Regions from separate parts of the Homo sapiens genome. Here all the other regions are linked to region 1. Evidence: fine-mapped expression QTL. A gene starts in region 1. Each other region holds a variant in brackets. All regions are shown on one strand. Distances are from middle to middle.

The links. PIP is the estimated chance that this variant, and not a neighbour inherited with it, causes the effect.
Region 2: its variant is fine-mapped to the expression of OSBPL5 in monocytes (Fairfax 2014, PIP 0.93).
Region 3: its variant is fine-mapped to the expression of OSBPL5 in whole blood (TOPMed, PIP above 0.99).
Region 4: its variant is fine-mapped to the expression of OSBPL5 in whole blood (TOPMed, PIP 0.93).
Region 5: its variant is fine-mapped to the expression of OSBPL5 in whole blood (INTERVAL, PIP 0.95).
Region 6: its variant is fine-mapped to the expression of OSBPL5 in cerebellar hemisphere (GTEx, PIP 0.91).
Region 7: its variant is fine-mapped to the expression of OSBPL5 in unexposed skin (GTEx, PIP 0.96).

Annotation. Positions count from the first base shown.
Region 1 is chr11:3,163,170-3,167,233 of GRCh38, forward strand. It overlaps OSBPL5 (oxysterol binding protein like 5), which reads right to left and starts at 2,141. Exons shown (of 22, transcript NM_020896.4): 1 at 2,047-2,141. RefSeq lists enhancers at 186-879, 2,623-3,335.
Region 2 is chr11:3,127,962-3,132,025 of GRCh38, forward strand. OSBPL5 (oxysterol binding protein like 5) reads right to left here. Exons shown (of 22, transcript NM_020896.4): 2 at 1,052-1,208. The coding sequence starts at 1,187. Among named protein-coding and RNA genes, the nearest start is that of OSBPL5, 35 kb to the right of the region's middle. The variant T/C (reference allele first, on the strand shown) is at 1,721.
Region 3 is chr11:3,140,591-3,144,654 of GRCh38, forward strand. All of the region lies in intron 1 of OSBPL5 (oxysterol binding protein like 5), which reads right to left. Among named protein-coding and RNA genes, the nearest start is that of OSBPL5, 23 kb to the right of the region's middle. The variant C/T (reference allele first, on the strand shown) is at 2,349.
Region 4 is chr11:3,086,258-3,090,321 of GRCh38, forward strand. OSBPL5 (oxysterol binding protein like 5) reads right to left here. Exons shown (of 22, transcript NM_020896.4): 21 at 3,589-3,691; 22 at 850-2,086. The coding sequence ends at 1,948. Among named protein-coding and RNA genes, the nearest start is that of CARS1, 31 kb to the left of the region's middle. The variant T/C (reference allele first, on the strand shown) is at 1,939.
Region 5 is chr11:3,134,312-3,138,375 of GRCh38, forward strand. The region is part of intron 1 of OSBPL5 (oxysterol binding protein like 5); the gene reads right to left. Among named protein-coding and RNA genes, the nearest start is that of OSBPL5, 29 kb to the right of the region's middle. RefSeq lists enhancers at 796-1,403, 1,404-2,012, 2,013-2,620. The variant C/T (reference allele first, on the strand shown) is at 1,993.
Region 6 is chr11:3,209,829-3,213,892 of GRCh38, forward strand. No RefSeq gene overlaps it. Among named protein-coding and RNA genes, the nearest start is that of MRGPRG-AS1, 6.5 kb to the right of the region's middle. The variant C/T (reference allele first, on the strand shown) is at 2,286.
Region 7 is chr11:3,117,246-3,121,309 of GRCh38, forward strand. OSBPL5 (oxysterol binding protein like 5) reads right to left here. Exons shown (of 22, transcript NM_020896.4): 6 at 3,176-3,379; 7 at 2,302-2,386. Among named protein-coding and RNA genes, the nearest start is that of OSBPL5, 46 kb to the right of the region's middle. RefSeq lists an enhancer at 2,549-2,718. The variant C/T (reference allele first, on the strand shown) is at 2,152.

The sequences.
Region 1 (4,064 bases):
TTTCTCAGCTGCGGTCACAGGCTCAGATTCACCTGTCCCTTGAACAATAAATGGGAATGGGGGCGGGGGGCACCTTCTGTCATCTTGGGTAAGTTTTCCACCTGCACACTGTGCCTGTATGTGTGCAAACGTGTGCAGGCTTAACCACAGAATCAGCAGAGAGCACCAGTCCCCAAAACACAGCTGGCAGAGACACACACAGCCCTTCCACCCGCCGGCTTGTCACAGAGTGTTTCTCCCTCCCCCAAGCGTTACATGTCAGATTACTATCAGCGCTCAGAGTGAGGCCAGGATCTCAGGAGAGAAACTGATACCAGGCATTCTCAGCATAGTAAATACAATCCTGGGTAGGGGTTGGGTGGGGGGGGCGGTCTTGCGTTGGTATTCTGTAAAGAGCTGAAAGCAGTCCTTTGAAGAACATGGCCTATTCATGGCCCAATCTGGACCCAGAAAGGAGCCTCCACTGGACATGCAGGATGGCTGCCCGGGGTTCGACATCTGCAGGGCAGCCTCTCTGAGACCAGGCCCAGGACTGCAGGTCAGAGGCTCCTCATCCGGCCTATCTGCTGTGTCACCTTTCTTAAACACAGCCTGGCAAGACAGACACACGCGGTGCCTGCCTCCTGGCACCCCAGGCCAGCCCCACACGCGTGCAGGCAGACAATAGGATCTGCAGTTCTGGAGCCTGAGACCAGAAGGGAGCAGCTGGGCACATGATGCCACCCCAGGTTGCCACAAACCTGCCCGATGCCTGCAAAGCCCCCACTCACCTGGCAGGTTCAAGGAACAGCAAGGCCCTGTGTACCAAGGAGGTGGGATAAAAACGTGCAGAGGGGCCTTACTCCTGGGGTTGGGGAGCAGAGTTTCTGTTCAGTCTGGGATCTGGATCAGCCCTGGTGCAGGCAGACCCAAGAGCATCTATCTAGGATCCCAAAGGCTGGCCCACTTCTCCAGGCTTTGGGAGGCTGTATCAGGTGGGGTGGGACCCTTACAGAAGTCTTCCTGTAAAAGGCACCTTGAAGAGACTGGGGCAGACACACAGAGGGGAGCAAGTTGCGAAACGGCAAGAGAGGAAATCCACCCAGCCGCTTCGGCGGGGCAGACCCGCTCAGCCCAAGGATGAGGGAGGGGCTGGGCTCAGCCCAGGGACGAGGGAGGGGCAGGTAAGCCCACCCTGTGACCCCTCCATACCCCCAGGAGTCACCCCAAACCCTAACTCCAGTTGGCTTCTGACAGGAGGCAGCCCAGCGGTCTGGGTGGGGGTTGGGGGCGGTGCCTGGGAAGCCCAGGACGGGCCTGTTGCCCGGGGGGCTGCAGACTCCAGCCTCCTTCCTGCCTGCCCCACCCTCCTGCACCCCGCTCCCCGGGAGGAATCTTCAAGTGCACAAGACCCTCTTGAGGACTCAGGCACCTCAACAATCCCTAAGGCTCCACATCTTCAGGGGGTCAGTGCCCCAGAGATGGGGGCTGTGGGCAAGGTCCTTCCCTAGCCTGTAATCCAGGCAGCCCCCTGACTCTGCGGACTCAGACACAGCAGTCCTCCCAAGCCCGCAGCTGGGACGCCAGACTCAGATCCCAGACCCCCTGCAGACCCATCAAGACCTGGCTCCTTGGAGCCCGCGTCGGCCGAGCTGGGGGGACAGACCCCCTGATTGGCCAGGGTTTGTGGTGGTCAGACCCAGCCACCTTCCCTGGCGGTCCCGGCTCCTTTAAGCCCCACCAAGTGGGGAGCCGAGCTGGGCGCGCCGCTTCCCACTCGCGGGCCCCACCCGCCCCAACCCGCCAGGCGCCGACCCGTCCTGGCCCGGGGCGCCCCCAGGCTCCCGCGCTCCCCAGCTCCCCAGCGCGCGACCGGCCCCGCGGCGTGGTTCCCCGCACTGGCTACTGCCAGGGTCCGCGGGGCTGCGGCGCGAGCTCCTGGATCCCTTCGGCCGGCCCCCCGCGGCCCTCGGTTCGCTCCGGCCCTGCCCGGCGGGGCCCTCCGGATCCTTCCCAGCCCGCCATCCCCCCGCCGCCCTGCCGCCCCCCGGGCCGCCGCGCTCCTACCTCCTACCGTGCCGCGAGCTCGGTGCTCCGGGCCGGCCGGGCGCGCGGGGGCTCCACTGGCGGCGCGGGCCTGGCTGCAGGAAATGCCAGCAGATGGTCCCCCCGCGCGAGGCGGAGCGAGGGCGCGGCGGAGGGAGGAGGCCCAGGGAGCCCGGAGGCGGGAGGAGGAGGCGCGGCGGCCGCAAAACCCGGGCCGAATCGCCGCGCGGAGCGGGCGCCCAGGGGCTGCCCCCCACCGGCTGCCGCTTCTCCTCATCCCCCAACCCCCCGCGCGCGCTCCGGGGCTCACACCCACCCGGGCGGCCAGAGGTCGGGACACTCCGCTGAAAATGGCCAGGAGGCTTGGCGGGGTGGGCAGCGGTGAGTGGGGTCAGCTTCGTGGGGTTCTCCAACTTAGGGGTGCAGGCCCCCAGCCCACCCTAGCCAGGGTGCGAGGCGCCTCCTCTCCCTTCCTGAACCCAGGAAACTGTCGCCGTTTCTCCCCGTCTCAGGAGCCATCAGAACACAAGAGGAGCCCCAGACATCTGAGCCCGTTGTCCCTGCCCCTTATGTGCTAAGAAGGACCCTCAGTCACACTCTAACTGTACGTCTTTCTCAGGACCCTTTTGACAAGAACCTCCCCTCATGTGCATTTCTTCCTGTGTTTTCTCCTCACCTTCTTCTACCCCCCAGAGACCTTTTTAGACCCCTCAGTTCTCTTGTATATAAAAGACATTCTAATTCCCCTAAACAGCATCCCCTTGGGAGCTGAGAAGTCCTCCCCTGGCCCCTGGCTCCCTGCCTGTAGACCCTAAATTGGGTGTGGGCCCAGGGCTGGCCCCAGGGCGTTTGCATCCCTAGTGTCCAAGCCTGAGGTGCACTGCAGGTCCTTCCTATGGTATGTCCCCAAATGACCAGAAAAACTGGGAGCTGGGCTCGGGCATCCCCAGATGTAGGTAGACCCCAAGAGGGCGTGGAGTCTTTTCCACACAGAACCTTAACAGGGACAGAACTGACCCTCCGCAGAGAGCCCTGGGCTCCTCCCCAGGCAGAACTGCCACTGACACGTGTGTTTCTACGGTTTCACGCTGCAGTTGCATTCGGGAGGCCGCAAGCCTGGCTATCATGGGCGTCTGCAAGACCTCCCAGCAGGGCTGCGGAGGGCGAGCGGCCCAGGAAGGCTCCTTCCAGCACCTGAAGGGGGAACGGCACAGCATGCAGGTGCTCTGCCCACAACAAGCCAGACCCCTTCCCGTCTCAGCCCTGGCCTTGCCCACCCCGTTAGACAAGTTGGTGGGTATCCTCCTGGGGATAGCAGCACCAGCCGCTTGTGTGCGGATCACAGGAACCCACGGCTTACGGAGGCGAGTGGGCTGATCGGACTTGCCCTAAGCTTACCCCCAGGGCTAGCATTGCCATTCCATAGTCACCTTGTGAGGCCTTGGGATGCAGAACTGCTCAGTCAAGATGCTCAGGGCCATGGTGGGACCCTGCTCCGCGTGGCCTGTGGCAGGCGGCCTCTGCCTCTGCAGGAGAGGGTCTGTGCAGCTGGGATCCACATACAACTGCTGGGTCTGCTCTTTGAAGACTCCGCCCAAAGCTGAGGTGCTGCTGCCTGGTAACTTGCTGGTTGCTGGAGCCAATCCAAAGGGAATTAGGGAAGAAAACAAAGCCCCTATCCCTAGGGCGGAGGTCTCAGGGGCGGCAGTAGGGAAGGTTGCCAGTTGCTTGATGCTGGCTGTCCAGGGCCTGGGTTTCATGAAATGACACTGCTGAGGGCAGAGGTCAAAAGTCAAAGAGGCACCTGAGGGTGGGGGAAGGGGCCATAGATGACAGCAGGGTGGGGCTGGGGTGGAGCAGGACGAGGGTTGAGCCTCTCACTGGGTAGTGTCTGACAGCCAGATGGCCATGCAAGAAATGAAGAACACGCCACCTGCCAGGCTCAGTGACAGGTGTCAGTTGTCTGCCCCACTTCCCAGCAGGCTCTGCATTTTTCCAGAAAGCCCCATTTCCAGCCTCTTGCCTGGTTTTGGAGAGGC
Region 2 (4,064 bases), 35 kb before region 1:
CTGGGACCCAGCCCTTCCCCTCCCCACCCCTGACTCTGCAAGTGCTTCTAAGCCTCCGGCCAGGGTGAACGTGACAGCAGAGAATAAAAGGTGTAGGATTTACCTTGCCGGGTGTCGAGTGCCCCTGCCTGCCATAGCACCTTCAGCAAGGCCACCTCTACGCTGGGACTCCGTTTTTCCATCTATTGGATGGGACTTTGGCTGCGACCACACGCCCCTCGAGCCTGGGTGGTGGATCCGCCCAATGCTCTCCCACTCCCCCCAGGGCAGATGAGATGACCATGGCCAGGCAGGGCTGGGGCTCCCACTTCCTCAGCCCCAAAGCAGGCAGTGGGAGGAGAGGGGGCAGAGCTGGGGAGAGGTCCCCCAGGCAGGTGCCTGCCCCTACCTCCTACTCTCAGGGGAACAGGGGAGGAAGGGCTGGGTTTTCTGGGGGACAGCAGTCACAGCTCAGCCTTGGCTGGGGCAGGGGTTGTGCATAGTTAGGTGCCAGGGAGGGGCCTGGAGAGTGGCAGCATTGGCGGGCAGAGGTTCTGAGTCTGTGTGCTGGGTGCTTTATCTACAATTGCACGAAGGCAGGCCTGGTTCCAGCTGTCCCCTCTCAGAGCCCAGGACCCATGTATAGCTGGGAGTAGGTACTAATATTGTCCCATTTTATAGATCAGTCAACTGAGGCCTAGAGAGGTCAAGTAGCTGGCCTGGGGTTACCCTGCCAGGACTGGGGCTCAGGCCACCTGTCCCTGGAGCCTGCACTCCATAACTCCCAAAGCCTGGGCTGACTTTGGGATGACTGCACTCCATAACTCCCAAAGCCTGGGCTGTGGGAACCCCCTCCTCAACCAGATGGGCTTCACCTGGCCCCGCAGGTCAAGCCAAGAAGCCGTATTACCTGGCACTCTACCAAGCTACAAACCGTTTGATCATGAAACCCACACAGTCCCCAGCATGGAAGCTGTGGACCTCAAGGGGCACAGAGGGGTTGGGCCGCCCGGGGTCACCCCACCGGGCCCAAGCTGAGGGCCAGGTTGCCCTGCCCACGGCCGGCACTTACCTGGGCTGAGTGGGTAGAGCTCATTGTCTCCGCTGAGGAGCAAGTTCCGGGTGAGCTTCCGGGGGTCGACTTTCTGAGGGGTGGAGGAAGGTGGACACAGGGAGAAGCGGCGCCGGAGGAAGGCCTCCTCCTTCATGCTGTGGGCGCTCGGGGGCTTCTGGAAGGAAGGAAGGAGGGGCAGCAGGAGGTCACCGCCCCGGAAGGGGCTTCAGAGCCACATGGTGGGGGTGCCCCTGGCTAAGAAGTCCCCCTCTCAGGGGACTTCTGAGGCAGGGTGAGGAGGGCCTGGGCCCTGGGAGCCTGGTGGTGGGTGGTCAGCCAGGACAGCCCAGCTCAGGCGAATGGCTTTGGCTGGTGCCAGCCCTTTCCACGCCGGGCAGTAGGGCTGGACGGAGCCCTGGTCAGAGAGGCTCATCACCACCCTCGGAAGATGTCCTTCTCAGAACCCCCACCCCAGGTTCTGTGAGACCCTGGCTGCAGCCAGGCAGACCCACGTGTAGACACAGGTTTTCCCTCCCGCATTTCCCTCCCACGTGACAGCACTTTGTGGTGGGGAGGGGTCTAGAGCTTCCATGGAGAAGATGCACGGGGGTGAGACCAGGTGGCCGCTGAGCACCAGGGAGTGGCTGGCACGGTGTTGGGCAGTCCGGGAGCCTGGCCTGCCATCCA[T/C]CTAAGGGTCCCAGGAGCGCCTCGCCTCTGGTTAAGCCCGCCTGAAGCTTGGGTGCCCCAACAGTTTCAGTTGCACCCACATGCACCCCAGCAAGAGAGGGAGCTCTGGGCGCTCACAGCCAGGCACACCTGCGTCCACGCCCAGCCCAAGACGTTGCATTCCCAGTGGGAGCTTCCTTGCTGCTTCACAAAAGAGGGAGGCCCCACAGCCAGGCCCTGACACCCACCTGCCTCGCTCTCCCAGCCCCGCCCACTGGCAGACCTGCCTTTCCCCTGTGGGTTCAGAAGCGAGTTTCTTGTTTCCTCCCCTGGAAGGAGAGAGGACAACAGGCGGTCCCCTCTGTCCTGCTCCCCACCAGCCCTACACCTAGTAGTGCTGGGCCAAGCAGAGGGTAACTGATTGCAGTCACGCCTTTGCAGGCACTTGAAGTTGACGGCGCCAGATCCACTGAGGTCTCAGCCCATTTTACAGATGAGAAAATCATGGCTCAGGGAGTGGAAGGCCTCGACCTGTAATCGTGACCTGACAAGGGTTGGCAGAGCATCCCCTCCAGCTTCTCATCTTGTGTCCACTTCCCAAGGGCGAGCTCCTTAAAAACTACTGGTCAATTTTCCTCCTTTCCCAATTTTCTGGGGCTGCTTCCTGCTGCCTCAGGGCAGGCCAGTGGCATCCTGCCAAGCCCGGGACAAAGGCCTCGATTTCTCCCATGGTCCTGGGCTTTGCTGGGGGGGGCCTCAGACACACAGAGACTTTCCTGCTGTGGCTTCAGGAGTGGGCTGGGGGCCCAGGGTGTCTGTGGTCCTGGGGGCTTCTGTCCACCACCCCAGAGCCCCCTCTGTGCCCCCAGTCCTGAAGTCAGAGTGGGGAGGGGCTCCAAGGATGCAGCCAGGCTGGGCCAGCCCCTCCCTCACCTGGCCCCTGGCTCGGCTCATGACCTTGGCCATCTTACACACAGGGCAGCTGGCTTCAGAGAGGCTGGCGTTTTGGCCCAGGTCACAGAGCTAACAATCAGCAATGCCGTCCTTAAGCCAGGTGGAACCGATCCTAAAACCCAGCCGCTGAGTGTCTGCCCACTCAGTGTCTCAGCTTGGCTCAGCCAACCTGCCGCAGGGAAGCAGGCAGATGGGAAGTCCTGCCCCTACTTGTCAATCACAACAAACACGTCCTACTTGCCCAGGTGCAGCTCAGGATGGGAACCAGCAGCTGAGCGGAGGCCGGGCTTACTCAGACAGCTGAGATTTTCTGAGCACCCAGGCTGGGCTGGGCACCAGGCAGCCAAGGTAAGTGAGCAGCGATCCTGCTCTCAGGACCCACAGAGAGCCCCGGAATGTCCCAGGCAGTGTGGTGACAGCGATTCCCAGGTAGGTCTCCCTCACTTGGAACCTCCTGGGGCAGGGAGAGGGGCTCAAAACCTAGCCTCAGCTGCCCTGTCTGGCTGTCTGCTCCAGTTCCACCTGGGCCAAGGTAGAAAGGCCATAGGGGATCTTGGTACCTTTCTGCTCAGATACCCCACATACCTTCTCCCAGCACCAATGACAGCCAGTGGGACTTCTTAGTCTGTGAGTGCCACCATCCACTCATCTATACACCAGTCTCATCTATACACCAGTCTCCCGCTCCCTTGTATCCCTCCATCTATACATACATACATCTCCCTTCCAGGCATCCATCCATCCATCCATCCACCCACCCACCCATTCATCCATCCATCCATCCATCCATCTACTGTCATCCCATCTATCCATCAATCCATCCATCCATCCATCTACCCATTCATCCATCCACCCATTCGTCCATCCATCCATCCATCTACCATCCTCCCATCTATCCATCCATCCACCCATTCATCCATCCATCCATCCATCCACCCACCCATTCATTCATCCATCCATCCATCCATCCACCCATTCATCCATCCATCCACCCATTCATCCATCTGTCTATTCATCCACCCGTCTATTCATCCATCCATCTACTGTCCTCCCATCCATCCATCCACCCACCCACCCATTCATCTATCCATCCATCCATCCATCCATCCATCCATCCATCCTCCCAGGCATCCATCCATCCATCCACCATCTTCCCATCCATCCATCCATCCATCCACCTACCCATTCATTCATCCATCCATCCATCCATCTACCCACTCATCTATCCATCCACCCACCAAACCATCCATCCATCCATCCATCCACCCATCCACCCACCCTCCCTCCCTTTCAGGCATCCATCCATCCTCCTGTCCATCCATCCATCCATCCATCCATCCATCCATCCATCCATCCATCCACCCACCCATCCACCCACCCTCCCTCCCTTTCAGGCATCCATCCATCCATC
Region 3 (4,064 bases), 23 kb before region 1:
CTGTCCACCCAAGTACATGCTGCCCCACCAGTGGACAGGCATCGTCGTCCCGGCTCCCCTCTGTCCCCCAGCTCACATTACCCAGGACTGGCTGTAGGAGCCTTGTTTCCAAGACCAGAGAGGTCATAAGGTCACCTGCTGCCCACACGTCCCATCCTAGTCCTCCTTGGGGTATGTGGGTACCTGGGGCGGCCCCTCATGTCCAGGAGCTGAGGCTGCCCCTGGGTGTATCAAGGTGAGGTGCCTACCCCACCCCTACCCGCCCATGCAGAGCTGCAGCTGGTGCTCTGGTCAGCCCATGGGTGTGACAGCCCAGGGGGCCCTGGGGCCAGGTGACCACCTCAGAGCCACTCCTTCCCCGATGCCATCTGTCAAGGGTCAGGGGTCACACACTGCAGAGAAGAAGACACAAAGCCTGGCAGGTAGGACCCTGGGGGCACCAACTTGGGTGGGGGTCAGCCCAATGCCTTGTACGAAGAGGCCCCCAAAACAGGAATAAAAACCACCTAACAACAGAAACAACGTCAACCCATAAAGCCTCATTCCAGGCAGTTTCGAGTGCTCTGATGCTGACAGCCACCCAGGCTTCCCCCCGCCCAGCAGACAGTATCGTCATCATGTGTGATGCAGGGAGGGCACAGGAGATGCCACCGAGTCGTGATTGCTCCTGGACAATGCACAGCGTCCTTTGACCAAGCGCCTCCTGCTCACCCGGGAACACACCCTCGGGTCCAGCATCCTCCCTGTGACTCTGCATAGTGGGAAGGACGTGGATTCTAGAAACCCCTCCTGCCCCAGCAGGCAGGTCCAGCCCCGAGGCCTCCTTGGTTCCCCTCAGAACAGAGCTTCCAGAAGGGCCCCCAATCTGTCTCTCAGGAAATGGGGGGGGTCTCAAACAGAAGGACCCCCAATCTGTCTTCCGCTGTGGTGGAGAGCTTGCCAAAGTGTTCAGGAAATGGCATTAATGGGGTCCATTATGGCCCGAGTTGCGCAGAGAGGACAGGGAGGGGCTGGATTTTGCTGACCTCCAAGGGGAACCCTTCTATGAACGGAAAGCTCGCACCTCGCTCAATGCATTGCCAAGTTGCGATTCTCATGCATCCCAGTGCTTTGCCGAGGTGCCTACGCCACCCTTGCATGTGTGTCCTCCCCTGGGCACAGGATGCTAAATGGGGTGACAGTAGGAACACCCACCCCCCACCCGCCTCCCACCCAGTGCAGGGACTGGGAGGACTCTACGCCCTGGAAGGAAAAAAGACTGCAAGAGTACAAATGCGCCATTTTCCCACTTTCTCTCCATGTTACAGTTGCAGTTTCTTTTCTTTCTTTTTATTTTTTTTGAGACGGAGTCTCGCTCTGTTGCCCAGACTGGAGTACAATGGCACGATCTTGGCTCACTGCAACCTCTGTCTCCCGGGTTCAAGCAATTATCCTGCCTCAGCCTCCCGCGTTGCTGGGACTACAGGCACCTGCCACGATGACCGGCTAAAATTTTTTTGTATTTTTTCAGTAGAGACATGGTTTCACCATGTTGGCCAGGCTGGTCTCCAACTCCCGACCTCAAGTGATCTGCCCTCCTCGGCGTCCCAAAGTGCTGGGATTACAGGCGTGAGCCACCGTGCCCGGCCGACAGCTGGTTTCTGAGGCCAAGAGAAGAAGCTGACTCGCCCAGGGCCACACGGCAGGTTGGTGCAGGAGGTGCTGGGCCCTGGTGCCACCCCAAAGTCCACGGGGCTGCCCACAGCTGGGGGAGTGCAATGCCCAGATGGTCCAAGAGAACACTTTCTGGGCTGCTGGTCTGTACAACTGGGAAGCCCCTACCTCTCCACCACGACCCCTCCATGCCCTGCTGCCACAAGGGCCCAGGATCCCTCCCCACTCGCTGCTCCGTGTCCCAGGAGGTCAGATTTCACCCGGATGCTTAGCTCCCCTCCCTTTTTACAGATGAGGAAACTGAGAATGAAACAGGAAAATGAAATGAATGACTCCATCCTACAGGTCTGAGAGTCACCGTCTCGCGGGTGGAGAGCCTGGGTGGTGCGTTTATCAACAGGACCGCTGGTTTCATGTCTCTGTCTCTCCTCATAGACCCACTCAGGTGGAGACCTGTCCCTCTGTCTCCGTGTCCGCGGGGCCCGGCAGGAAGTCGTGTGCAGGGGTGGAGGCTGGAAGACCAGCAGGTCTCCCTTCACCTGGGGATCCCCGAGCCCCATGCAGCCTTGCGGGTAGAAGGGCAGTGACTGCCCACTCCTTGCACACAAGGAAACAGTGAGACCAGAGGAAAAGGACAAAACCAGTCACCCAGGACAGCGGACGGCACACGGGGTGGGGGTGTGTGAGCAGAGACC[C/T]TTGGGACCCAGCATCTGGGTCTGGACGGTCCTGGAGCCTGCAGAGCAGGGCAGAGGAGGCAGGTGCAGAGGGGGGCAGAGGAGGCAGGTGCGGGGGGGGGCAGAGGAGGCAGGTGCGGAGCGGGGCAGAGGAGGCAGGTGCAGAGGGGGGCAGAGGAGGCAGGTGCAGAGCCGGGCAGAGGAGGCAGGTGCAGAGGGGGGCAGAGGAGGCAGGTGCAGAGCCGGGCAGAGGAGGCAGGTGCAGAGCCGGGCAGAGGAGGCAGGTGCAGAGGGGGGCAGAGGAGGCAGGTGCGGGGGGGGCAGAGGAGGCAGGTGCGGAGCGGGGCAGAGGAGGCAGGTACAGCCCAGTGCGTGGACCAGCGACCGGCTCCAGGGGCCCATGGGGGGCTGCACTGTGGGCGAAAACGCACGGACGCGACACACCCAAGAGAAACAAGCACACGCCCCCAGGTGGTCCGCGCACGCACGCTCCCAGCAGCATGGCTCAGGGCCATCAGAGAGCGGACACAGCCAGACATCCACATGGGTGAACGGATAAACATGGATCACATCTGTGCAACGGATGGAAGAACATTCGGCCTTCAGGAGGCAGGAAGCACGGCACTCACACATGCGACGACACGGATGAGCCGCAGAGATGCACCAAGTCAAAGAAGCCAGATACCAAAGGCCACATCTTGTCCGCTTCCACGCCCACGCAGTGTCCAGGACGGGCAGGTCTGGACACGGAACGCAGACTGGTGCTTGCCAGGGCCCGGCCCGGTTCTGTCCCGGTTTCCTGGGGCTCTTTGGGGAAAGAGCATGGGCTTTGGAGTCCACTATGACTGGAGGCTGACCAGATGATCCTGGAGCCCTGGGCCCTTGGTTTGCTTTACTGCAGCCCAGGGGGATCCTCCTAGCTCCTGGCCGTGGTCATAGCTGAGCAGGGCCCGAGGAAGGCACCCGGGCTGCAGTGCACAGCAGATGCTGTGGAATCGACAGCTCTTGGGATCATCCTGTGTGGTGGGAGCTATGGGGTGGACACTGGGTTTGGGTAGCAGGACAGAGGGTCGATGGCCTCAAGTCACACTGAGTCAGGCCTGGCGGGGGCCAGCTGCTCCAGCACCCACTGAGCCCGGCAAACCTCGATGGCTCCTCCCATCCTCAGGGGGTCCCACAGCCCTGAGACCAAACACGGGTTTATTGTTTGTGAGGTGGTTCAAGCAGGCTGCATCAGGACAGAAACACACAAAAAACCCAACGCGGGTGGAAGTGACAGGCAGGTGGGGACAGAACATGCCCCCTCCTCTGCAGCTCACACTCTGGGGGATACAATGAAACCGCTGACAATGAGAGCCCCAGGGAAGTGGGGTGCCATGGTGCCAAGGAGCAGTGTGAGGTGCCCTCGACATGGTAAAGCCCCATGACGGGGAGCTGGAGTGTGCAGAAACGCTGGCAGCGGTGGACTATGGGTGACCGATGCTGTTTCTTTAAAAAACAAAGTGGAATTTCCATAACTCTTCACATTCCCATCAATGCATTGATCATGATCACAGCCAGCAGCAAACCCGCCAGGCTCCGTGGCCGGGACCAGCTGACCTCTGCAGGGGAGTGCGGGCTGGGCCTGGCCTGACCCCGTTCCACCGACACTGAGACAGCAGACACCGGCCCCAAATTCCACCACCTGTGACTGGCTGAGCAGCCACACACGTGGGTGGTCTGACTTTGGGGACACCC
Region 4 (4,064 bases), 77 kb before region 1:
CAGCCTGCCCCGCCATCAAGATGCAGAAGGCTGTCACCCCCAGGGCTCACACTCTGAGCTCATGTTTGCCCCATGGTGTGTGGCCTCCACAGAGGGGCACTGGAGCCAGGCAGGGCCCCCCGCCCCATCCTCCAGGTGGTTCGGGGGGGTCTTGGGAGTCCTGGCTGTCTGAGGCGGACATGAGGCTCCTCAGAGGAGCTGGGGGGCAGGACCCCCTGCCTCTCCCTCCACCCCAGCCACAGCCCCTCCTCTCCTGGGGCCTTGGGGGTCGAGGTGGGGAGGTGCAGAAGGGAGGTGGTGACCCGAGGCCCCTCGTGTCCCCCTCTCCTGGGTGCTGCCTGGCTGCCCTCCCTTTCATCACCCTTGTCCTCTGGTTGCTGTGAGGGGTGGGCTGCAGTCTCCCTCTGCTGTCACTTGAGGCCTGTGGTCAGGTGCCCCCACCCCGCCTTCAGGGGCACCCTGAGCAGGCCCACTCACTGGCCTTGGTGTCTGAGTACCAGGGGTGGTGGCCACAGTGGAACCGAAGCAAGGGGCAGCGGGCCAGGTGGTCCAGCCAGGGGGGGTCCCCTTCAGTAACTGGCAGCATTGGCCTCAGGGGCTGTGCCAATGCCCCCCAGCAGCCTCTGAGGTGCCTGGAGTGCCTGTGGGCAGTGTCACTCTGTGTCCCCCACTGGCTCATTGGGTGATGGGACGCCAGCCTCCCAGCATTTGCTCCACAGGGCGGGCAGGCTGCCCACAGCTCCCTGTGAACTCTGCACCCTCCTCCCTCCCGGGCCCCTCCACCCAGCCCCACACAGCTCCATGCTGGCCTTGAGTCTTCCTGGGAAGCCCTCCTCTCGTTTCCAGAAGTCCCGCAAGAAGAGAACACGTATGTGTCTGTTTATTTCAAGGTGTGGAACACAGACACATCCCCAGATGGGGGAGGAGGGGAGACAAGGACACGGGTACAAAAACTGGAAACAAAGCCACCCGCTACAGCTCAGACGGCACCGCCACGATGTGGTTTAAGGCTCTGTACGTATATATATGTGTAGAGGCTCACACACGCGCACACGCACACGCAGAGCGGCACTGACACGGGGACTGAGGCCAGACGTGAAGGCTGACTGCAGCTCGCAGCCCACCTAAAATATTGCAATTATGTTTATTAAAAAAGTGTAAAATGGGAAGACTGTGCATCGGTCTGAGTAAAGTGGCGAACTTGAGCCTCCCCGGCCTGGGTGCGGGGCCAGCTAAGCCACACCCCTGCGCCCCCCACACCCCTGCACACACCTGCACCCACAACCACCTCCACCTGCGTGTGCCCCCACCAGAGCGAGCGTCCAGGTGTGGGGGTGGGGTGGTTCCAGGACCTGCCTCTGTGGGGCTCCCATCCAAACAGCACAGCGTGGAATAAAAAACCAAAATGCCTTCCCCAGAGTGGCCCTAACCTGTCCCTGGCACCCACCAGTGGCCCCACCAGGGTGGTCCCGGCAATGTGGACAGGGTCTCCGGAAGGCAGGCCTATGCATCTGTGTGTGGGGGGACTCCTGGGCCACTCGGGGCTCCTCCAAACCTGCCCACTCACTGCTGCTGGGGTGTGACTGTCCAGGGCCCCCACAGGCCCTCCCACCCTAAATCCATCCATCCCCCATGGCAAGTGGAGGCCGGACAGGGGGTGACACGGCAAGATGGCCAGGAGTGCGTCGCACAGCAGAAGCTGCATTTGGCTTTAGCATTAAGGCCAGCGCTGGGCGGAAGGCCCTGCAGAGAGGCCAGTGCCCCTGAGAGGGGCCCAGCACACCTGGGCCCGCAGCGCCTTGTGGCCCCGGGTCCCTCCTGCGCCTGGACTCCCCGTCACAGTGGCTGTGCTTGCCGGGCCTCTCTGCCTCCATGGAGCAGGCTTAAAGTGCTGGGTGCCTGGGAGGGAGGGCTCAGGACCGGCCAGGAGCTCTGCCC[T/C]CAGGGCTCCTATTTGAGGATGTGGTTAATGAACAGCTGACACGCCAGGAACACGCAGAGCAGGAACCAGGATCGGGGGCTCTGCAGGAGGCCTGGGGTCGGTGCCTGTGCTGCCCGTGCCGTGGAGCTCAGCATGGCCGAGAGGTGCCTGCAAGGACAGGCGACAGATCGTGGGGGCTGTGCCAATGCCAGCAAGTCCCCCTCCCACAAGCCAGGACAGTGCCCTGGGTACTTGACCAGGTGCTGGACACAGGGCCGAGGTGGAGATGGGATGGCCCTCCAGGGGCAACAGAGCGGGTGGGGGTGGAAAGCTTGTTAGTGGGAGGGCCCCACAGCACCATGGCTATACTGGGATTCCCTGGGCACATTCAGGGCAGAGGAGGGTCAGGGATTGGGGAGTCAGCCTTTTACATCCTCCCTCCCACCCCTGTGGTTATGGCTGAGTCATGCCTCTGCCACCTTCATATGTTGGAGTCCTAACCCCTTGCACCTTAGATAAGACTGTATTTGGAGATGGGGTCCTTAAAGAGGTATTTATTTAAATGGAGACCATTAGGGTGGGCCCTGGTCCCATGGGACTGGTGTCCTTATATGAAGAAGAGATGAAGACACAGACACAGCGAGAAGCTGGCGTCTGCCAGGCAGGAGAGAGGTCTCGGGATAAACCAGCCCTGTGGCACCGAGATCTTGGACTCCAGCCTCCGGGACCGCGAGGGAGTAGACGCGCTGTCCGAGCCCCTTGCCGGCAGTACTCTGCTGTGGAGGCCCTGGCCCTGAGCTGGAGTACTTTGCCGTGGAGGACCTGGCCTCTGAGGCGGTATCCAGTTTGCTGCAGAAGCTTCTGGCTGAGTCCTGGCCACCTGCCTGACAGCTGACCTGCTTCTGGGGAGCCAGGCCTCCCTGCTTCTCTGCCCACACAGCCTCACCAGGGAGCACCTTCTGGAAATGCTTACACAGGGACAATGACAGTTCCCCAAGGCTCTTGAGCCTCACAGAGCCCGGGCCTGTGCCCTGGCTGCATTTCACCCTGGGGTACTGCTATCAAGCCCACTTTACAGAGGGGAGGCTGAGGTGTGACAGCCAAGGTCCCACAGCCAGTGAGACCCTCAGCCTGGCTCAGAGTCAGGAGCTTTGGACCCGAGAGGGACCCTGTGCTCTGCTCCTCATTGGTGGGATCTGCTGACAGGAAGGGGCCATGTGGCCCTGGTGGCCTGCACCTGCCAGCTCTCGGCCACTCCCATTTGCTCCTTCCCCAGCCATTCCTGAGAAGCCACTGTGCGCAGGTATGGGGCCACCACAGTGAGCCCAGGCTGCCACCTCGCTCTGCACACCTCAAGGTCTCTCCTGGGGCTACCCCAGGCCATGCTGGGCTGGCACCTTCCTCTAGGCTTCAGGACATCTCCAGCTCAGTATCTGCCAGGCATGGCCAACTTGGCTGGTTGATCATCCCGCACCACCTGCCGCTCCCACACCCTCTCTCCTGCCCTCGGCGGTTGTCTTCCTTTCATCACCCTGCAGGTCTTGTGGGTTCCAGCTCCGATGACAACCCCAGCCGCGGCCTCCTGGCCTCCCCACCTCCCGCCCTAGCTCTACCAGGTCTCTCGCACTCTCTGACCCGGAGTCTGGATGGACACCCTGAGTGTGGCCCACCTGTGCAGCTCCTGCTGGGCCTCTCGGATGGAGAGGATGGCCTCGTGCAGGGCCTGCAGCCGCCGCGCCTCCTTCCTGCACCGAGGGCATGGGCTCTCACCGCCTGGGACGGCCCCGAGTGAGACAAAGGAGGGGAGGGGAGGAGTGAGGATGAGCTGGAGGTCCAGTGGGGCTGGCACGTGGGTCACAGGGTCATATCCAGCTCGGGCCTCCACCCCACCTCATGGGAAACCTGCAGGGCCAAGCTGAAGACACGGAGATGAGGGAGGGGTGCTGAGGATGTTTCTGGAGGGAACCCCCAGGCTGGACCAGCCACTAACAGGCCTGGGAGGCAGAAGTGGCCAAGGCAAGGCCCATCCATTACAGAGGCAGGGACAAAGTTGGGGAGACACAGCTCCTGGTGACAGGAAAGGAGCAGAGGGCTGGGGCAGGATGCCACTGGACCTGCCCCTCCCACCGCTGGGGAGCCCCTGGCC
Region 5 (4,064 bases), 29 kb before region 1:
AGGCACGACTTCCATTGTTGGGGGTTGCCTGTGTCCCCAGGAACCAATTCTCCAAGTGCCCCTTGCCTGGGGGAGCGCCAGGTTTTGTTCAGCTGTTGGGCAGACCTAGTGACTAGGGTGGGGGCCACTCTTCCTAGTCCAGAGTGAGCCAGGCCCACTCCCCAGCCTGTGAAGGCTCAAGGTGAGCAGGGCTGGCCCCCCAGCCCCTCCTCCTGCTGCTGGTCCCTAGCCCATCCCAGGTGGGTGCCCTGCCCAGCCGCTCTTCTCAGTCATGACTTTGTGCCTCTTTGGGCCTTTTGGAAAGGAGGGAGGGAGGCACCAAAAGGGAACACTTTGGACTTGGGTTGGGGTGGAGACCCGCTGTCCACCGAAAGAATGTGCTCTGAGCAGAGCCTCCTCTGCCATGTGGCGGGATGGGCCGGGGAGCCCACAGGGGCTGGGCTTCAGCTGCGTGAGTGGGTCTCCTCAGAGGTCTGCTGGGACTTGGGGGTGGGGTGGGGGTGATCCTGTGACCCAGAGAGGGGCTGAGGGTGGGGGAGGGGCAAGTGTGGGTGCCGGGTGCAGGCCCGTGGGCAGGGCCAACCACCAGCCTGGGAGAGCTGACAATCCCACTTGTGGTCCCACTAGGCTGGAGAGGGGACGCGGGAGAAGCTCGGCCCATGGAAGGCCCCCCTTTCTCTGCACCCCAGCCCCCGAGCTGGGCCTTTGCTTCTGCCTGGCCCTCTGCAGGGGGCTCCTCCTTCTTCCTCGGAGACCCAGCCCCTTTGTCCAAGAACGTTTCCCCAGCTGTCAGTCCTCAGGAGCAGCTGACCGCCCCCGTGCGTCTCTTTGGACCTGAAGTGCGCCCTGGCGGTGCTTCGCTTTGGCCTGGGTGGGTTCCCCTGAACTGAGCTGTGCTGGGCTGGGCAGGGCCGTGCTTCCGCCAAGGGGACACTGGCCCAGCTGACTTCCTTGACTACTCAAGCACCTCTGGACCCAGTTGGGCGGGGCACACACAGGGGCCAACTCTGCATCTCTAGAATGAATTCGCTCATGGCTGGAAGGGGGCTTGAGAGACGCTGGAGCTGCTAAGGGCCGGGGAACGTTCTGGAGGGCCAGAGAGTAAGGGGGACAGAGAGCCAGAACCGTGGCAGCCAGGCAGAGGCCACTCCTGAGGCCCTCCTCTGGGCAAGGAGGTGGATGCCCAGGCAGGCAGGGATGGGTGCCCCTTCCAGGTCCTCTCCTGAGACCCCAGCACCCTCCTCCAGGCTAGCCCCAGACTCCCACCCCTGCCTGTGCCCAAAGCTGCAGAATGCCCAGGCCAGATGGACATGTGGGGCTCTCGGGGACTGCAGGTGGCCGTGATGGTGTCGTGCAGCTGCTGCACTCCTGAGACCACAGCTAAGACACCGCCCCGTGGTGGCAGCGCCTGGGGGCCGCCTTGCCTGCGGCAGGGTCCCACCCACACCCAGAGCCACTGCTTGACCCCCCTTCCTGTTAACCACAGGCACCTCCTGGTCCCCTCCTCATGGCTCCCACTTCCTCCTGCCCTGCTGAGTTTCCTGGGCCACCTAGGAGTTGCGGAGGGGACAGAGGCGAGGGCACAGGAAGGGAGTGAGCTCTGACTCTGGGCTGACCACCCCTCCCCAACCCCCACTGCATAGGCTGGAGCAGGCTCTTCCTTCCATTTCTCATGTGGGGCATGAAAGACCCCTTCCACCACTGGGAGACAAGAGGTCCCATGTGGTGCCAGCCCAGAGCAGATGGGGAGGGACAGGTCAGGTTCTGCCTCTGCCTGGCCAGCCCTGTGTCCCTGAGGATGCTTGCCTCTGGACACCTGGGGAGGGGCCATGCTCTCTGACCCCACGCCAAGGCCAGCTGTTTGGCAGCATGGGGCCCAGGCCCAATGGGGGCCCCACCCAGAGCCAGTGCACATGGCCCCCCTGCCTCCGCCAGCTGCCTTCCCAGCAGTAATCCAGCCTCCAAAGTGCTCCTTACCCCCTGCCTCCCAGA[C/T]GCTCGCCTTCAGGCTAGGATAAAGGGATTCTTGTAAAGAAAGGTCACTGGCGCCTCCTCAGGCCACATAGAGCCATCAGCTGGGGCCACACTTAGCTGAACCTTGGCCAGGGGCAGACACTGCCTCAGCTCTGGGAAAGGCTGAAGCTCTGAGAAGGAATCCAGCTGAGTCCTGGACTCATTCCGCATCCTTCCTGTGCCCAATTCCTCCTCTGTCCTCCTGCAGAGGCCTGGGGACCGCAGAGCTGGGGAAAAGGGCCCAGCCATGACTCCAGTGGTTGTGTGGCCTCAGCTGGCCACCTTCATCTCTCAGGCCCTGTTTGTAAATCAGGACTTGCTCTGAGTCAGGGAGATGATGTCCCAGGCCCACAGGAGGCCCTGGGGAAGGCGCCTGCAGAGGTGAGTGTGAGCCCAGACCCAGCCCCCTCCACGCCTATGTGGCTTCCTCACCCACAGCCCAGAGTGACAGGGCTGGGCCGCGCTGCATGGGGGCAGAGAGGAGGCTCTGGCCACTGGGGTGCTCCATCAATTGGCAGGGGCCAGAAAAGCAGGAACTCCGCAGCCAGCCTTCAGCAGTAACATCCGGCACAGATGCTTCTGCCTAAACCAGATAGATTCTCGTTCAAGACTGTGGAGGGGAAATGCTCTAAAATCACAAGGATAAAGGAACATAAGCCCAAATGCTTGGCTCTTCGCACATGGGATGGAGAGGTCAGTGGGTCCCAAGGAAGGACAGCAGCCATCAGTTAAAGGACAGCAGCCATCATGTCAACACCATACGTTTGCATTCCAGAAACTTGCTAAGGTCAATGCAAGTGACCATGAAGATCCTGCTGTGAGGAAACCACGCAGGCCTCCTGAGTCACCCCAGGGAGACCACCACAGCAACAGATGCACTCCCTGAGAGCAGACAGCAGCATAAGAGACCAGGCTGCTGTGTCTGGGTGGACCGAATGCCTAGTGCTAATGTGGGCAGCCTGACCACCCCTGCAGGAGCAGCAGCCTCTTCAGAGAGCCGTGGCATGCACTTCAGCTGTGGCAGCTGGGCCCTGGGGGGCTTGGGACATGCGCTTTCCCAGGACATCTGCTGCACTGATGGACCTTAAAGCCCCCAGGTCCTCCTGGATGTTCTGTCCCATCTGATATGATTCTCGGAATGCTCGCAAGGTGCGGGGAGCAGGGGAGCAGGGGTCATCATCACATTTTAAAGATGCAGTGGGCCGGGTGTACTGCACCTGGGATTACAAGCCTGTAATCCCAACACTTTGGGAGCCTGAGGCGGGTGGATCGCTTGAGCCTAGGAGATCGAGATCAGCCTGGGCAACATAGCGAGACCCTGTCTCTACAAACATAAAAACAGCCGGTTGTGGTGGCACATGCCTGTGGTCCCAGTTACTCAGGAGGCTGAGGTGGGAGGATTGCTTGAGCCTGGGAGGTCGAGGCTGCTATGAGCCATGGTCATGCCACTGCACTCAGCCTGGGTGACAAAGTGACACCCTCATCACACACAAACACACTGGGACCCCAAGAGGGGAAACGGCCCATCTAAGGTCTCGTGGGCCAGGCTGCGCCTGGGATCCCCTCAAAGGAGCACAGCTGAAGCCCCAAATCCCCTTTGCACTTTGGAGATAGCTGTGGAGCTGAGGGGGAGGCCAGGCCTCCCTCTGGGGAGACATTTATCAGAGGCAGCTGTGGAGTGGTTGAACCTCAAGAGGGGCACAGGAAGTGGCCTGCACTGCTGAGGACGCAGCATCGAGCCATGCCTGCGTGTTCTCCGGGCTGCCTCAGCCAAGTCCTGTGCCTGTGGGCCCGGCCAGGCCAGCCCGTCCCCGGCCCTGTCCACCTGTCCTCCTGATGGACACCAGGCCCACTGAAGGCTCAGAGCAGCTACTGGGTCAGCTGGCCTTGGTACCCCGACCCCACACCCCTGTAGTCGATCACTCCACCAGCCCTAAGAAGCCCTGGCATGGGGGCGGGCTGGGCGTGGTCCCTGAGGCAGGCCTGGCCCCACCACCTCCCAGCTAGACCCACCACCTCCCAGCTAGACCCACCCCACCTGTCCCAACTGAAAG
Region 6 (4,064 bases), 47 kb after region 1:
GGTTACCCTGGGCCCACCCAGATAATCTAAAATCATCTATCCATCTCAAGAGCCTTAATTTAATCATATCTACAAAGTCCCTTTTGTCATAGAAGTTCACATTCACAGGTTACATGGGTTAGGACATGCATATGTTTTAAGGGGGCTTTGTTTTTAGCCTACCACGAGCATATATGTTTATAGTTGTGGTATCTCTTGATGGACTGACCCTTTTATGATGGTATAATGTCCTTGTTTGTCTCTAGTAACAATTTTTTTAAATTAAATTTATTTAGTCTGATATTATTATAACCATTTTAGCTCTCTTTTGGTTGTTGTTTACATGGAATATCATTTTATATCTGCCTGTAATCCCAGCACTTTGGGAGGCCAAGGTGGGTGGATCACAAAGTCAAGAGATCAAGACCATCCTGGACAACATGGTGAAAACCATCTCTACTAAAAATACAAAAATTAGCTGGGCATGGTGGCATGTGCCTGTAGTCCCAGCTACTTGGGAGGCTGAGGCAGGAGAATCACCTGAACCCAGGAGGTAGAGGTTGCAGTGAGCTGAGATTGCACCACTGCACTCCAGCCTGGCAACAGAGCAAGACTCCATCTCAAAATAAATAAATAAATAAATAAATAGAAATAAAAATTTATTGAGACAGGCTGGAGTGCAGTGGTGTGATCACAGCTCACTGCAGTCTTGATCTCCTGGGCTCAAAGGATCCTCTGGCCTCAGTCTCCCAAGCAGCTGGGACTATAGGTGTGCACCACTGCATCTGGTGAATTTTTTATTTTTTGTAGAGACAAGGTCTCACTGTGTTGCCAAGGCTGGTCTCAAACTCCTGAGCTCAAGTGATCCTCTTGTGTTGGCTTCCCAAAGTGCTGGGATTACAGGCATAAACCATTGTGACCAGCCTCATTTTATATCTTTTTACATTTAACTTATTTGTGCCTTTCAATCTAAAATGTGTCTCTTGTAGGCAGCATATTGTTGCATCATGAAAAAATGCCTATTCTGGTAATCTGTGCTCTCATATGGAGTGTTTCTATATTACAAGTGGGTGAACATCTTGGTAGGGAGCATTATGCAGCCTACAAGAAAAGATTTAAAAAAATTATCTAAGCTGCTTAACTCAAAAAGCTAGAAAAAAAGAACAAATTTAACTTTCATGATTTAGACAGAAAGATGTAATAAATACAGATAAACAGAAATTAAATAGAAAACAGATGAACACTATAGGAAAAATCAATAAAAGTTGGTTCTATGAAAAGATTACTAAAATTGATAAAGCCCTAATGAGAATTTTCAGGAGAAAATGCAAAGTACCCATAGTAAAAATAAAAAAGAGATATGTGAATTTGATAGACAATAAAAGATTAATAAGGGGATATGGTATACAAGTTTATGCTAACAAATTCAAACTCAGATAAAATGAAGTGGACAAATTCCTTGAAAAAGAAAACTGACACAAGAAGAAAAAGAGAATCTGAATAGCCCTATATTTGTTAAAGAAATTGAAATTGTGTTTTAGAACCTGTTCACAAAAACCCAATTGGCTTCATTGGTGAAATAATATTGGTTTTATCCAAACTCTTACACAGAGTTGAGCAAGAGGAAATAATTGATGCCCAAACCTGAAAAGGACATCACTAGAAAATAAATGAGACACCAACCTCTCTCATGAACACAAATGCAAATACCCATTTCAAAATATTCATAAATCAAATCCACCAATATATAAAAAGGATAATATGTCATGGCCAAGTGGGGATTGTCAGGCCTCTGAGCCCAAGCTAAGCTATCATATCCCCTGTGACCTGCACGTATACATCCAGATGGCCTGAAGCAACTGAAGATCCACAAAAGAAGTGAAAATAGCCAGTTCCTGCCTCAATTGATGACATTCCACCATGGTGATTTGTTCCTACCCCACCCCAACTAATCAAACGACCTTGTGACATTCCTCCCCTGGACAACGAGTCTCATGATCTCCCCACCGAGCACCTTGTGACCCCTGCCCCTGCCCGCAAGAGAAAACCCTCTTTAACTGTAATTTTCCACTACCTACTCAAATCCTATAAAACTGCCCCACTCCTATCTCCCTTTGCTGACTCCTTTTTCAGACTCAGTCCACCTGCACCCAGGTGATTGAAAAGCTTTATTGCTCACACAAAGCCTGTTTGGTGGTCTCTTCACATGGACATGCGTGACAGGGACTATCCAAGGAATACAAAGTTAACATTTGAAAATAAATCAGTGCAATTCCTCCCATTAACAGACTAACAAAGACAAACTG[C/T]ATGGTCGCATTAATAAATGAAGGAACAAAAAGTTGATGGAATTCAATACCTATGTGTGATTAAAGGAAGTCAGAAAATTGGGAATAGATGGGAATCATATCACTATGATGAGGCGCACATACAAAAAGCCTGCAGCTAACATGTTTAATGGCAAAACATTGAGCACTTTCCTGAAAGGTTGGGAATGAGGTGAGGATGTCCACTTTTACTATTTCTATTAACATTGTATGGGAGGTCTTAATGAGTGATATAAAACAAAGAACAAAAAGTGCAAAGACCAGAAAGGAATTAGTAAAATTATTTCTAATTATTATTATTTATAATAACTATTAATCATGTGTTAATTATAATTATTAAAATTTTCCTAATTCTTATATTTATCACTATTAATCATGCATCATTTTAATTATTATTCACAATAATTATTCATTATTCATTATTTACAATAATAATGTCATGCAAATGATTTGATTGTATACGTAGAAACTCCTAAGCAGTTTTCAAAAAGACTATTAGAATAAGTGAATTCAGCAAGTTCACAGGATAGCTGTTAGATAAATATAAAAAAATCAAAGTCAATATACAAAAATAATACAAACTATCAATATACAAACAATATACAAACTATCAATGAATATTGGAAAAAGCAAATAAAAGATTATTTTTACATAGCATTGAGAAACCTTAAATAACTAGCAATACATTTTACCTGAAATGTATAACACACCTACAGTGAAAACTACAGAGACAGAAATGAAAGAAGACCACAATAAACAGAGAAAAACCATGTTCATAAATTGGTAAACTCAATGTTGCCAAGACGTCCGTTCTCCATAAGTTGATCCAGAGTAACTGAATAGAGTCAATGCTATCCCAGTCAAAATCAGTAGACATTTGCACAAACTGTCAAGCTGATTCTGAAATTTATATAGAAATGTAAATCTTGAAGAAGAAATATAAAAGTGTAGGAGTAACACCACTTGATTTCATAACTTAATGTAAAACTGCAGTAATGAAGACAGTGCGGTGTTGATAGAAGGACAGTGAAATAGAGCAGTCAACAGAATAGAGTCCAGAAGTCGACCCACCCTATACAATCAGTTGATTTACAATACAGATGCCAATGCAATCCAATGGGAAAAGGGGTTTTACCAGAACAACTGGATATGCATGGGAAAGAAACAGACAAAATGAACTTTGATCATCATCTCTCACCACCTACATTTAATCTGAGATGAACACAGGAAATGCAAACCTGGGAGTTTACCCATTGGCCCCTGGGTGTCTTTTTTCCATGCTTGATACATCCCTATTCCCATCCCAGGGTCAGCTGCCAACAGCCCCCTCTCAGGATCAACAGCCCCCTCCCAGGATCCACAGCCCCCTCTCAGGATCGACAGCCCCCTCTCAGGATCAACAGCCCCCTCCCAGGGTCCACAGCCCCATCTCAGGATCCACAGCCCCCTCTCAGGATCCTGATCTTTCTGTTCTTCTTGGCAGGTGCCTGTGTTTTATTTTCCTACCCTTCCCCTCTGTGAAGGCTCCTGACTTCTTCCTTTCCTGATCGGACCTTGTTCCACTGCAAATTCTACGCTACGTCTCCCCCCAGACCTCAGATCCTCTCCTGCAGCCTTCCTGCCATTGTCCTCTTTGGAGGCTGCACCAGCTCTTCCCTCTTCCCTGCATTGCTGCTGCTGCAGCAGCTTCCTGTGTGTCCCCTGCTCAGCCTGGACCCCCACCCCCGCTGACCCCCTCTCAGTTGTTAGTTTTATTTCTTT
Region 7 (4,064 bases), 46 kb before region 1:
CATACCTCATCTACACAGTCCCTGTACAGGGTTCCTGACCTGTGGTAAGTAAAGAATGTCACTTTCTGACAGGCCCAGGAGCTCCAAATTTATCTTGGAACCTCAAGAAGATAATAATTCGCCCAACTTATAGGTGTTTAATGGTACAAGTCCATGACTGGGCTCAGCTTTAAAAAAGTCTTATCTGAGATTCTTTCTATGGAACAAAGTTCCATCAAAGACAATTTAAAAGCCTATGTAAAAACTAATTACTCTTGCTGCACTGTATATAAATAATTAGTCCAAGTATAATAAAGCAAACCAGTCCTACCATAATTTGTCCTTAGTTAAAATGGGAAACTGGAGAGAAAAAATTATGTTTCAAAAACTATAGTACAGCTGTTGTTAGATTCTACTCTTCCCTAATGTTTTTCAATTTTTGTTATTTTCTGCACTTTGGATGAAATCCTAATTTTTGTTGGCTATAGGTCTTCAAAATAATGTTTTCAATTTTTTTCCTTCATTTTTTTCCCATTTTTCCTAATTTGGAGTCGCTGAAGACTAAGCTGTGCTTTCTTAAAGCCCTGCAAACTGAAACTAGACAACTTAAACTTCAGAAGAAAATAACAGCAACCTACTTACATACATAAGCCACTTTCTTGCCTGCCTACTGATGTATGGACTTCAGAGTAATGTGGCCTATACCAATTTCCCAGGATTGTTCTTTTGTTTGTTGTTGTTTTTCTGCCTTCCTCCTACTATTTTCTCTTCATAGGACATGAGACTTCACAGCCTTCTGAAAATGAGCTTTCCTAATAACTTGGGACCTACCTGTGTAGGAATAAACCATCCTAGCCATGAGAGATCAGGTGGAACCTGAGACCAGAGACTCGTTTTCTTCTAAAATGCTTTCTCCAAAAGATTTTTAAAAAGGGGGGAAATGTGAAAGGAAAATATCTTGGGCTCCCAAAATCACGAAGCTAAAGGGAAAAGTCAAGCTGGGCACTGCTAGGGGCCAACCTGCCCCCCCATTCTATTCCAAGTCACCCCTCTGCTCACTGAGATAAATGCAGATCTGATTGTCTCCTTTGGAGAGGCTCATCAGAAACTCAAAGGAATGCAACCATTTGTCTCTAATCTACCTATGACCTGGAAGCCCCCTCCCGGCTTTGATTGTCCCGCCTTTCCAGACCGAACCAATGTTCATCTTGCATGTGTTGACTGATGTCTCATATCTCCCTAAAATGTATAAAACCAAACTGTGCTCGGACCACCTTGGGCACAAGTCATCAGAACCTCCTGAGGCTGTGTCACAGGCACGGCCTCAACCTTGGCAAAATAAACTATTTTTTTTTTTTTTTTTTTGAGATGGAGTCTCCCTCTGTCACCCAGGCTGGAGTGCAGTGGTGTGATCTTGGCTCACTGCAAACTCTGCCTCCTGGGTTCAAGGGATTCTCTTGCCTCAGCCTCCTGAGTAGTTGGGATCACGGGCACCCACCACCATGCCCAGCTAATTTTGTATTTTTAGTAGAGACAGGGTTTCGCCATGTTGATCAGGCTGGTCAAACTCCTGACCTCAGGTGATCCACCTGCCTCAGCCTCCCAAAGTGCTGGGATTACAGGTGTGAGCCACTGCACCCGGCCTGGCAAAATAAACTTTCTAAATTAACTGAGACCTGTCTCAGATGTTTGGGGTTCACACTGGCATGTGGTTGGAGCTCAGTAATTGTTATATGGGTGCTTTTATAAGGTCACTGGGTTCTCATAACATTGGGGTGACAGGTGGTTTTTTTTTTTTCTTTAAGACGGACTTTTGCTCTTGTCACCCAGGCTGGAGTGCAATGGCACCATCTTGGATTGCTGCAACTTCCATCTCCCGGGTTCAAGCAATCCTCCTGTCTCAGTCTCCCGAGTAGCTGGGATTACAGGCGCCTGCCACCACGCCTGGCTAATTTTTGTATTTTTTAGTAGAGTCGGGGTTTCACCATGTTGGCCAGGCTGGTCCTGAACTCCTGACCTCAAGTAATCTACCCGCCTTGGCTTGCCAAAGTGCTGGGATTACAGGTGTGAGCCACCACGCCTGGCCTTTGACAGGTGGTATTTTAATGTCACATTTTACTCATGGGAAAACTGAGGCTAGGCATGGGGGCTCTGTGAGTGTAGGCCTGACTC[C/T]GAGCCGGGCTCATCCTGGCCAGACTTCAGGCTGCCCCCAGACAGTAGAAGGGACTGAACTGGGGCCACCTGTACCTGGGCTACAACCTCAAAAGGGGGCCCACTTCAGGTGGGGGCACTGGGGAGATGCGCAAGCTGGCAGGGACTCACCATCTGACTCGGAGGCGGCCCTGAAGATCAGGTAGCTGCTGGGCAGGGGCTGTGTGATGGAGCCCACGCTCTCACCTTTGGGGCCCTGGAGAGAGAGAGATCTGGGTGTCACCCGAGGCAACACCCAGGGCCAGCTGCACAGATAGGTCAGGCAGAACCATGCGGATCCACACCTGGGACCACCTGGACACCCCCAGGGCCACAGGGCCACCAGGTGGGGCCAGGCACCTGGCCAGGTAGACACTTGGCTGCAGAGAGGCGGGTAGGTGGGGGAGCTCTGTCCCCTTTCTTAGCTGGCAGCTCTGCCCTCAGCTTTCCAGCTCTGAGCCTCCTGACTTGGGCTGTCCAGAATCAGCAAAGGCACATCCAGGATGCCCAATGATGTTCGAATCCCAGAGAAACCATGAGTAGCTTTTTGGTGTAAGTATTTCCCATACATGACTGGGGTCATACTAGCATGAAAGAACTCTGATGTTTCTCTGAAATCCAAATGTAACCAGGTGTTCAGGGTTTCTCTGGTTTCCCACCCGTTAGAGCTGGCAGGGCAGCCCCGGGTTAGGAGGGGTGAGGGCTGGGCGCTGTTCCTCGGCCACCCCTGGGGAGCAGCCACTGTTGTCCCTCCTGGACAGCAGCTGGGTGAGGGGCTGGGGTGACCTTGATGCCACCTCCTTGCAGCCTACTGTGTGCTTCACATGGAGCACCAGTGGCCATATCTGATCCCCTGGCCGCATGTGGGGCTCAGAGAAGGTGAGACACCTGCTCAAGGCCCCAAGGGGGCCATTCAGCTGGTTGGCTCCACCCTCCACCAGGGCCCTAGGAATGAGCCCCTTGGCCCTACGGGGCCTCTGTCTTCAACCCCACCCCTCCGCAGCACCTTCACGGCCCAGACGGACTGATCCAGCGGGTGGAAGAGCTTGAAGCAGAAGCCGTCCTTCTTGGAGGGCCGCTCGATGAGCTCGCAGCAGTGCAGCAGCACCGTGCCCACCCACTGGCCCACCTTGGGCGTCTTGTAGATGAGCAGCACCCCCGGCTTCAGCACGCACCACAGCTTGGTCCAGCTCTTCAGGGTGCCGCGGATCTGCAGGGAGGATGCTGGCGTCGATGCCCACCCTCTGGGGCCGCCATCCCTGGGGCATCTTGATGGCTTGGCGGGGAGCCAGGCACAGACCAGGGTGGGCTGCCGAGGGGCCCTTCCCCTCCCTCACTCCCCCACACCAGTTCGGAACTCACCCCTTCCTCACCCTCACTCCCTGGGGTGATGTCCTGTGTCTATCGTGTACCCGAGCAGGGGCCAAGCCACGGCAAGCGGTGCCCCAGGACTCAGAGTGGAACTCAGGGCAGGGTCCTTGTTCAGTTTTTAAAAGGAGCCCATATGTTATGGTGAATGCAAAGAAATACGTGGCAGCAGGGACAGATTTACTTGTGAGGGTCACGTGGGTCAAGTTCAAGGTCAAGGGCCTCAGGGAGGAACCAGCAATGAGTGGTGTGACTTGTAACTGGCAGCTTTGTAGATTCTTTTTTTTTTTTTTTTTGAGACAGAGTCTCTGTTGCCCAGGCTGGAGGTGCAGTGGTGCTATCTTGGCTCGCTGCAAACTCTGCCTCCCAGGTTCAAGCGATTCTCCTGCCTCAGCCGCCCGAGTAGCTGGGATTACAGGCGCCCGCCACCATGCCTGGCTAATTTCTGTATTTTTAGTAGAGACGGGGTTTTGCCATTTTGGACAGGCTGGTCTCAAACTCCTGACCTCAGGTGATCCACCCGCCTT